Linked DNA regions of Homo sapiens: region 1 is linked to region 2. The links come from fine-mapping of genetic effects on gene expression. A gene starts in region 2. The other region holds a variant in brackets. All regions are shown on one strand. Distances are between the middles of the regions. Region 1 overlaps ZC3H7B (zinc finger CCCH-type containing 7B). Region 2 holds the start of ZC3H7B (zinc finger CCCH-type containing 7B).

The links. PIP is the estimated chance that this variant, and not a neighbour inherited with it, causes the effect. A credible set is the group of variants that fine-mapping cannot tell apart.
Region 1: its variant is the best candidate, but not a certain one, in a credible set for the expression of ZC3H7B in whole blood (INTERVAL, PIP 0.63).

Annotation. Positions count from the first base shown.
Region 1 is chr22:41,340,304-41,345,670 of GRCh38, reverse strand. ZC3H7B (zinc finger CCCH-type containing 7B) reads right to left here. Exons shown (of 23, transcript NM_017590.6): 11 at 4,525-4,583; 12 at 3,043-3,142; 13 at 2,095-2,256. Among named protein-coding and RNA genes, the nearest start is that of TEF, 39 kb to the left of the region's middle. The variant A/G (reference allele first, on the strand shown) is at 2,305.
Region 2 is chr22:41,298,421-41,303,787 of GRCh38, reverse strand. ZC3H7B (zinc finger CCCH-type containing 7B) reads right to left here and starts at 2,263. Exons shown (of 23, transcript NM_017590.6): 1 at 2,016-2,263. It also overlaps a transcript of RANGAP1 not described here. RefSeq lists silencers at 1,887-1,956, 2,237-2,576 and an enhancer at 1,654-2,155.

The DNA of each region.
Region 1 (5,367 bases), 42 kb before region 2:
TAATCACTCCTACCCCACTCACCCCACAGGATTGCTTTTGTAGAAGTATACAAGTCTCTAAATAAATAGAAGGGATTTTTTTTTTGAGATGGAGTTTTGCTCTTGTTGCCCATGCTGGAGTGCAATGGCACGATTTCAGCTCACTGCAACCTCCGCCTCCTGGATTCAAGTGATTCTCCTGCCTCAGCCTCCCGAGTAGCTGGGATTACAGGCACCCGCCACCACGCCCGGCTAATTTTGTATTTTTAGTAAAGACAGGGTTTCTCCATGTTGGTCAGGCTGGTCTCAAACTCCCGACCTCAGGTGATCCACCCCCCTCGGCCTCCCAAAGTGCTGGGATTACAGGCATGAGCCACTGTGACTGGCAAATATAAGGGATTTAAAAATAATTATTCACCAGGAAAAGAACACTGCATGGTTAAGAGCATGTAATTTGGCGTCAGACAGAATTGGGCTAGGATTCCTCATTACTCCCCGAGCCTCAGCTGTCTTTGCTATGAATGGAGGAGACTGGGTTGTTGGAATCAAGTGAGATAATACATAAAGCTGGCGGGGGCGCTGGACATGGTGGCTCATGCCTGTAATCCTAGGACTTTGGGAGGCTGAGGCAGGAGAATTGCTTGAGGCAAGGACTTCAAGACCAGGCTGGGCAACAAATTAAGAACCCTATCTCTACAAAAAAGTTAAAAATTAAAGAATAAGCTGGGTGTGGTGGCATGTGCCTGTAGTCTCAGCTACTCAAGAGGCTGAGGCAAGAAGATGGCTTAAGCCCAGGAGGTTGAAGCTGCAGTGAGCTATAACAGCACCACTCACTCTGGCCTGGGCAACAGAGCAAGACCCTGTCTCATAAAACAAAAACAAACCAAAACAAAATTTCTGGGGGCTGGGCCATCTGGAGAGAGGAAAGGTGGCTCAGAACCTGGAGCTCTGCTGTTTCCTGGGGGTGGGACCTGTTTTTCTTTCTCCTCCTCCCACTCTAAGTCTGCCTTGTCCCATCTCTCTGCCAGGCTCTTGGCGCACAAGGACAAACAGGCCACAGACCTGGAGGAGTGGGGCAGATCCCTGGGTGGGAGTGGGGGTGATTGCAAGGGGAAGCACCGCAGAGAAGGGCTTCCCAAGATTCAGGCGGTGCTTGAAGGAGGAGCAGAGGGTGACTAGGCTCAAAGGGCACAGCGTGTGTGACGGAATCAGGGAGGGTCAGTGCATTTGGGGAATGGTTAGGGCAGAGGGGTGAGGGGGTGGATACGGGCACGTGTAGGTCTTGTTGCAGAATGTGGACTTCATCCCACTGGCCACGGGCAGTGGCTGATGGAGGCCTTTGACCCAAGAGTGACATGTCCTTAGACCAGCCTGGCTGCTGGGAGGACAAGGAGCAAGTTCAGGAGGCCTGGGCGGGCCACTGCTAGGGGCCAGGTTGGGGGAGAGGCAGAGCCGTGGGTGCACTCTCAAAGCCTCCGTTTCCTCCTCCAGAGCTGTGAGGCTGCATGCTGGTGAAATGAAAGGGCTACACTGGGAAGGCCTTAGCAATTCGTGACTATTCACATATCGCCGTACAGCGGGACCAAGGCGCTTGGCTGGGACCAGAAAGAAGCTAGTCAGGGACATGATGGATGTCCATTAAATACCAACCAGGCTGATGTGAGCCAGAAATGAGGACAGTGACAACAGAAGAGTGACAGAGAGCTCAAGTGGATGGAGCCCTCACCATGCGCCAGTCCTAAATGCTTCATGTGGCTGCTGGGCACACTGCCCCGCGGCCCCTCAGGGCCCTACAGTGGTAAGAGAAGCCAGCCCCCTATGAGTCATGTAGGCTCCTGACACTCCAGAGCACAGGCCAGTGACGGGCTCGGTCTCCAGCTGAATGTCCCAAATGTGTCCCACCTGCCTCTGGAAGCTGCTAAGGGAAGAAGACGCTCATTCTGATGTGGAATTCATCCTGCACGGGCCCCAGGAGCCTAGGCCGTGGCTTTCTCCTCCCGTGCAGCTGTGAGGCCCACCCCTGTTCTGTCTACCTGTGATGGGGAGTAGAGCAGCGGCTGGGGGTGGAGGGGCTGGGCCCCAGCTGTGCTGCCTGCCCCGCTGCAGCCCACCCACCTTTGCACAGGTAGTAGGAGCCCACGAAGCTGGTCTTAGTGGGCCGGGGCCGGATCCGCTTCCAGGTCTGGTCCTCCGAGCTCCGGAGCCGGCCGAGCAGGATGTCCCGCTTGCACTTGTGCTCAAGGCCCTCACGGTAGGTGTAGTCGCCAGCCCGGGGGCCTATGGGCAGGGTGGACACACATGATAATTCCGGAAGCAGAATTGAAG[A/G]GTGATGGCTGGCAGGCCCATGCGGTGGGTAGGAATCGGCCCCCTCCTTATATACCTACCTCCCCTCTGAGGGCCTCCTGCCAGCTCCCACCACACCCTTCCTGGCTACTTGCTCCCTGGAGACCGGGGGACTGTGCTGGGGGAAGCCCCTCGAAGGAGCCCATTCTTGGCACCCATCCCCCCTCCTTTTTTTTGAGACAGAGTCTCACTCAGTCACCCAGGCTGGAGTGCAGTAGTGTGATCCCAACTCACTGCAACCTCTGCCTTCCGGGTTCAAGCAATTCTCCTGCCTCAGCCTCCCGAGTAGCTGGGACTATAAGCGAGCACCACCAAGCCTGGCTACTTTTTGTATTTTTAGTAGAGACAGGATTTCACCATGTTGGCCAGGCTGATCTCAAACTCCTGACCTCAAGTGATCTGCCTGCCTCAGCCTCACAAAATGCTGGGATTACAGGTGTGAGCCACCGCATCCGGCCTACCCATCCTTTTTCTACCACCGTCCTCACTCTCTAGTGAGTCTGACCATGTTAGTGTTTCTCTAGAAAGGACTGTGAAGGTGGTGCCTGGCAGGGACAGACCCCAAACTCCTGCCCCTTTCCTTTTCTGCCCCAGAGGGGCTTCTGATTTCTGGCACTTATCTCCAACTGAGACACTGGGATTCTTTTGATCTGGGATCCCATGTTCCTGAGATTCCCAGTTCTCTGGGCAGAGGGGTGGAGTCTACAGGTGAAAGTTTACCTGTCTTGGGGTAGCAGAGCTGGCAGGCCTGCTTGAACTCGTGGGTGGCAGCCAAGGGGTTCTTGATGAGCAAGGCAGTGTTGGGCATGCAGGGCTCTGGCTGTGACAGGAGGAAGGAGGCCATTGTGGGCACTGGATGATGGCTGAGGCCACTGGGGCCAGCCAGGGCACCAGAAGTGGGGAGTGCTCTATGACCCCCCTATCCTACCCAAGAGCAAAACCACAGCCCAGGACCCTTCCTCTTCCTCCACCCTCCCAGCCAGGGGAGTTCTTTGTAATGTGGTCCAAGAGTCTAAAATATCAGGACCACCTTGGTCCCAGCATATGGTCCCAGGCTAGTGGGTGACCTGGGTCTTGGCTCTGAGCCTTTCTTTGAAGGCAAGTTGAATGTGAAAGCATAGAAATGGGAGGGGCCGTGATTGCAGCCTGTGCTCATGCCCTCCCCCAATCCCCCAAGTCATCAGCAGATGGGGAGGAAGGCAAGACTCAGAGAGGTTAGGGAAATTCCCCAGGACCACACAGCTAGTGTAGGTCAGAGTGTAGCAAGCTCTTTTTTTTTTTTTTTTGAGATGGAGTTTTGCTCTTGTTGCCCAGGCTAGAGTGCAATGGCGTGCTCTCAGCTCACCGCAACCTCCACCTCCCAGGTTCAAGCGATTCTCCTGCCTCAGCCTCCTGAGTACCTGGGATTACAGGTGTCCGCCACTACACCCAGCTAATTTTTGTATTTTTAATAGAGACGGGGTATCACCATGTTGGCCAGGCTGGTCTCGAACTCCTGACCTTGTGATCTGCACACCTCGGCCTCCCAAAGTGCTGGGATTATAGGCATGAGCCACCACGCCTGGCCCCTCATCAGATGTTCTTTTATTATTATTTTCTTTTTTTTGAGACGGAGTCTCGCTCTGTCGCCCAGGCTGGAATGCAGTGGCGCGATCTCGGCTCACTGCAAACTCTGCCTCCCGGGTTCATGCCATTCTTCTGCCTCAGCCTCGCGAGTAGCTGGGACTACAGGTGCCCACCACCACACCCGGCTAATTTTTTGTATTTTTAGTAGAGACGGGGTTTCACTGTGTTAGCCAGGATGGTCTCAATCTCCTGACCTTGTGATCCGCCCAACTCGGCCTCCCAAAGTGCTGGGATTACAGGCATGAGCCACCGCGCCCGGCCCAGATGCTCTTTTAAACTCAGGACCGGACTGAGTCTGGAGACCAGGGATGCTACTAACACTGGGGAAGTCACTTCACTCTCTGAGACTTGAATTCTTCCATCAGACAAGGGCAGTGGTGCCCTCTGTGTGCCCGCCCAGCATATGGCTTGGTGAGGAAGGGCACGAGGTGATCATCTTTGATCCATCCACTCTGGGAGTGCCCCGCCGTGGGGAATGCAGTGCCTTACCCCATGCAGAGGGCTCATTCCCCAACTCTAGAACCCACAACCCCCAGCAGGGAATGAGAGGCCTGGATCCCCACTCAAGTCACTCACCGAGGGGGCTGGTTTCTGAGCACCGCTAGGGGGACGGTGGTCCTGTGAGTTGGTCTCCTCTGGGCAGGGAGAAGACACAGGGGTCAGTGGCTCTGGCTCTGAGGCGTGAGGGGCCTTCCTAGGGCTTCCCCTTATGTATTGCTGACTCGGAGAAGCCCCCAGGCCACACATCCTCTCCTACTCCTGCTGAACCCCTGACTCTATCCTCTCCTCTCCACTCCCCAGGGGCAAAGACGCCTCCCAGCCTGAGTGTGTCCACTCTTTGCTTAAACTTGCCAGGGCTTCCCGCTGCCCGTAGGAGAAAGCCCAAGTTCCTTAGCTTGCTCCCAGGTCCTCGGAGACCAAGGCCCCCACCCCAGCTGCTCCGCTCATCAGCCAGCCCCGCGCCATGCCATGCCAGGCTAGTGCCCCTGCTTCCTCTGCCTGGCAGGTGAACTTTTCCTTCAAGACCCTGCCTAGTCATCACTTCCTCCAGGAAGCCTCCTTTGGCCCTGAGGCTGAGTGAAGTCCCCTCCGTGCCCCGACAGTCCCGTTAAGCCCTCTCAGTCGAGTGCCCTGGGCTGTGTCCGACTGCCGAAAGCTAGCCCCACCAGCGCCCAGACAAGACGGCTTCCTCCCTGGGTCCCTGGCACCCAGCCCAGAGTGGTGCAGTGGGAGGCCATGACCTTGTGCTCCGCCCCCAGCCTCAGGATCATCCCATGGGATCTCACCAGCCTGGTGACCCAGGGTCCCGGGAGGCTGGGCAGGGAGCACCAGACTGGGAGTCTAGAGGCCTGGACTGTCGCAGCTCTCCTCTGCTTGATCTTGAACAAGACACCCACCCCTCAGGCCCAGCCCCACACT
Region 2 (5,367 bases):
AGACTCCGTCTCAAAAAAGTAAAATAAAATAAAATAAAATAAATGAAAAGTAACTTGCTAAGGTGGCCCAGGACTCTGGGAAAGGGTGACGATTTGGAGCCAGAAAACTGGGTGGGAATCCTACCTCTGCTGTCTGACTTTCCAGCAAGACACACAATTCGGCCTAAGGTTTCTTATCTAGAAAATGTCTACCTGACACAGTTGCTATGGAGGACAGATGAGCCAACACATGTGAAAGCCCTTTTGTTATAAACTAAAAAGTGATATTTGAGGGATTATTATTTTCAGATTGAGGGATTATTTTCAGATTCTCTATCCATGTCTCAACCGACATCTCAGCTTTCCTACTAAGACTCGAGAGATCAGCACATCCCACCAAGCTTCTAAGCCCCACAATAATCTACCAAAACCCCCATTCCTGTCTAACCTATACAAAAGCCAGCAGCTAAGAACACACAGCATCTACAGAACAGAAACTTTATCCCAGCTCAGGGACAACAAAGTCTCTCTCCCATCCTCAGATCTCATCCCTCCTGGACAGGTTCTTTCTTCCCACCTTAAGTCTCCCCACTTCTCAAACATGCTCCATCCAACTGTTGACCAGGTGTCATTTCCACCTTGCAGTCCAACTTCTGTGGGAGGTGGACACGGGGAAAGAAGACCACCACGGAGGGGATGGCTGTATGTGTGTAGAGGAAGTATTGGTAGTAGAACTAAAGATTCTGCCAGCATTTTGTGTCCAACACAGTTGCTACATGTACTATAATTATCTCATTTGTGTGAAAATTCAAGGATCTGCATTCTGCTATTTTCATCAGGCTGAACTGCAGATGCTGAGGAATATGGCAAGAAGTTGGGGTTCAAAGTCTGATGCCAAAGCTAGCAACCCGAGAAATAAAACCGCTGATCACCAGCTCCCCACTCAGGCCCAGCCCCCTTTTAGAGCCCCCAGACTCCCCACGCAGGGCCCTAGCCCCCTAGTCTTCCCCGTCAATGCCCTGTTGGCAATACAGCCATCAGGTTCTATCAGAGTGAGCTGTTTTTATATGATTATTTTCCCCCCTGGGAAGACGGCTTTGTCTGTGAAAGTCCCCCCAACCAGGCGCCTTATAAACGCCTAAAACAGACAGAGTTGAGGAGAAAGGAGGGGAAAGGAGGAGGGAGCAAACCCGGAGGGGGGCCCTGAGGTTCGCAGCGGGCAGGATGGGGGTATGAGGCCGGAGTCGGCGGCTCCCAGGCCCCCAGCCCCGTCAGGGCGCCCCCGTCCCCAGGCGCCAGAGCCGGGGTCCGCAGCCCCCTAGCACTCCCTGGACGGCCGCGGGCCTCCCACAGGCCTCGAAGTCCAGAGACTGATCCTGCGACCGGAAACGCCCCCCTGCCCAGCAGGCCCAGACCGCGCCCCCCTTTCCTGCCGCCCCCTTCCCGCGGGCCCGGCTGCAGGCCCCGGATCCCCGGGCTCGCGTGGCCGCCGCAGCCGAAAGGGGCGGCCCGTCGGGCGGCCCCGCTCCCCGGCCCTCGCCGCGGCCCCTCCAACTCCGGGTGCTGCGGGGCCAAGGACAACACAAAAGGAAGGGGGGCCCTGCCAGCGACGCCCCTGCCAGCCCCCGAGACCCCCTGCGCGGGGTCGGCAAAGCATCTGGACACCCCAGAAGCTCCGGACGCCGAAGAGAGAGGCCCCACGAAAATTTCAAGACACCTCCTGGGGGCTGCAGGGGCGGCCAAGTCTCCCCAGCGCCAGGTGCCCCCGGCCACACGGTAACTTTTAAACTTTGGGGCAGGGCACGGGGACCGGGATCCCCAAAAAGGAGCAAATGGGGTTTTAGAGACGATTTATTTTTTGCAAAATCCCACTTTCCAGGTGGCCCGGCGCGCGGCCCCGGCCTGGAAAGGGCTCTCTTCGCCTCTTCCCCAGCCCTGCCCGGCCCGGGCGTCCCCGAACCCTCGCGCGCGGGCGGCTCCGGACGCAGTGTCCCCGGCCTCTGCCCCGCGGGGCTCGGGCCGCGCCAAGCACTCACCTCCGCCGGGCTGCGCTCCCCGCGGGCCTGCGCCGAGCCCGATAAATGGTATGCTATGACTAGAGGTATGATTACGTTATTATTATTAGTAATAATAAGAGTAAATGCTATTTAATTACGGGCGGCCGCATCCTGCTCCCGGCGCCGCCGCCCCGGCAGCTCCGTCCATGTGGCTCTGGAGCGCTTTACTTTCATTTCCAGCCCCTCGGCTGGCCGCTCGCGGCAGCACCCGCTGGAGGCACTGTCTCCCTGCAGCTCTTCCTCCTCGGGTCCTAGAGAGCTCGGCTCCCGTCGCCTCGCCGCGCCCGGGGTGGGCGGCGCGGGCTGCGCACCTGGGGAGAAGGGCGGGGGGCGTGGGGGCGAGTCGGGGAAGCCCCATTCCCCGTCGAAAGCTCATGCCTGGAATTCACCTTTATTTTCTTTAAAAGTGTCCTGCCTTTTAGGGGGGTTTCTTTTGGCAGTTCTGCATTTCTGGGCTGATGCTGCTCAAACCCAGCGCCTCCGCCCTTCCCCATCTGTGTCAAAAGTCCCCCCGCCCCCCTTCTCCGGCTTCCAGGTGCTTTCATGGAAGGCTGCCCAAAACCCTGGTTGCGTTGTGCCCTTCTCATAGATGGGAACCGGAGACACATAGAAGAATCAGGACCTCACTTGGCTGGAGTTTTATGTATAGGATGTTAAAAAAAATATTGAATGACACTTGTTAAAGACTACAAGGCCGACTTTATTGGCATCATGATGGGTGTAGGGACCACTGCAGTGGGTTTTGCGGTCAGGGAGAGTATTTGGGCTCAATTCAGAAATCAGCATGGGCAACTGGGAATTTATGAGGAAGGAGAAAGGATCCACTGATTGAGCGCCAGTGCATAGGAAACTGCATCAGAGATGAGAGGATTCTCGCTTAAACCCATCTAACAAGATTCTTGCTGAAGGCAGGGCAAGGTGATCAGACATCACCTGGGGAATGGTGGAAAATGAGGAACCTGATTAGATATTGACAATCAGGGCTGGGTGCAGTGGCTCACGCCTGTAATCTCAGCACTTTGGGAGGCCAAGACGGGTGGATCACCTGAGGTCAGGAGTTCAAGACCAGACTAGCCAACGTGGTGAAACCCCATCTCTACAAAAATACAAAAATTAGCCAGGCGTGGTGGTGGGTGCCTGTAATCCCAGCTACTCAGGAGGCTGAGGCAGGAGAATCACTTGAACCCCAGAGGTGGAGGTTGCAGTGAGCCAAGATCATGCCATTGCACTCCAGCCTGGGCAACAAGAGCAAAACTGTCTCCAGAAATATATGTGTGTGTGTGTGTGTGTGTGTGTGTGTGTGTGTGTGTGTGTGTGTGTGTGAGTTCCCAATACCCCCTAGGCAATTTACAATGAAACACCCTTGACAACTTATCACATTTACCACCATGGTTATTATCACTCTCATTTCATCGATGAGGATGCTGAGGCCAGTTGGATTGCTGCATTTTGCCTCAAGTGAACTAGATGGCAAATGGTCTGGTGATTCCACCACCCCAGGTTGCTGGTGAAATAATGAACACATATTCTTGAAGAGGACTGTCCATCATTCAAGGGGGATTCAGCAGGACACCAGCCTCTTATCTCTTCAAGTTGGTACCAACTTGTTCAATTGTTTGGGCTGCCTAAGATGGTAAAGGGGTCTTTATTACAAGACCCCAACCAGAGGTGAGGATGCTTTGGAGAAAAGGGCCAGGAGGAGGCCGGGCGCGGTAGCTCACGCCTATAATCCCAGCACTTTGGGAGGTTGAGGCGGGCGGATCATGAGGTCAGGAGATCGAGACCATCCTGGCTAACACGGTGAAACCCCATCTCTACTAAAAATACAAAAAATAAGCTGGGCGTGGTGTCGGGAGCCTGTAGTCCCAGCTACACAGGAGGCTGAGACAGGAGAATGGCGTGAATCCGGGAGGCGTAGCTTGCAGTGAGCCGGGATCATGCCACTGCACTCCAGCCTGGGCGACAGAGTGAGACTCTGTCTCAAAAAAAGAAAGAAAAAGAAAAGGGCCAGGAGGCTGGCATCGGTAGGCTTTCTGGGAAGCCCCATGTTGTCAGTCCCATGTTGTCACAGTGTGCTCTATGTCCCCATGTTAAAGCTGAAATAGCAGTAACAGCCACCGCTTCTTTACTATGAGCCAAACACTTTGCATATGTTGATTCTTTTACCCTCTCAAAAACCCTGTAGCTCGGCACGGTGGCTCACATCTGAAATCCTAGCACTTTGGGACGCCAAGGTAGGTGGATCACCTAAGGTTAGGAGTTCGAGACCAGCACGGCTAACGTAGTGAAACCCTGTCTCTACAAAAAAATACAAAAATTAGGCCGGGCGCGGTGGCTCAGGCCTGTAATCCTAGCACTTTGGGAGGCCGAGGCGGGTGGATCACAAGGTCAGGAGATCGAGACCATCCCAGCTAACACGGTGAAACCCCATCTCTACTAAAAATACAAAAAATTAGCCAGGCATGGTGGCGGGCGCCTGTAGTCCCAGCTACTCGGGAGGCTGAGGCAGGAGAATGGCTTGAACCTGGGAAGTAGAGGTTACAGTGAGCCGAGATCGTGCCACTGCATTCCAGCCTGGGCGACAGAGCGAGACTCCATCTCAAAAAAAAAAAAATTCATATGTTGAATCTCTAATCCCTGATTTGATGGTATTAGGAGGTGGGGCCTTTGGGAGATAATTAGGTCATGAAAATGAAGCCCTGATGAATGGAATTAGTGCTCTTATAAGAGACACTGGGGAGATTATCTCTCTCTGCCAGGTGAGGATACAGCAAGAAAGCAGCCATCTATAAACCAGGAAGGCGGCCCTCACCAACAACCTGACCATGCTGGGACCCTGGTCGTGGACTTCCAGCCCCCAGATCAGTGAGAAATAAATTTCTACTGCTTAAGCCATCCAGTCCATGGTATCTGTCATAGCAGCCTGAGGTGACTAAGATGGGGGTAATGTGAGTACTGTACTCGATGGGGTACACCCAAAATCCCAACACTAGGAGGCCGAGGTGGGCAGATCGCTTGAGCCCAGGAGTTTGAGACCAGCCTGGGCAACATGACAAAACCCTAACTCTGCAAAAAATACAAAAAATTGGCCGGGCGTGGTGGCTAATGCCCGTAATCCCAGCACTTTGGGAGGCCGAGGCCGGGCGTGGTGGCTCACCCCTGTAATCCCAGAATTTTGGGAGGCCAAGGTGGGCGGATCACCTGAGGTCAGGAGCTTGAGACCAGCCTGACCAACATGTTGAAACCCCATCTCTACGAAAAATACAAAAATGAGCCAGGTGTGGTGGCACGCACCTGTAATCCCAGCTCCTCAGGAGGCTAAGGCAGGAGA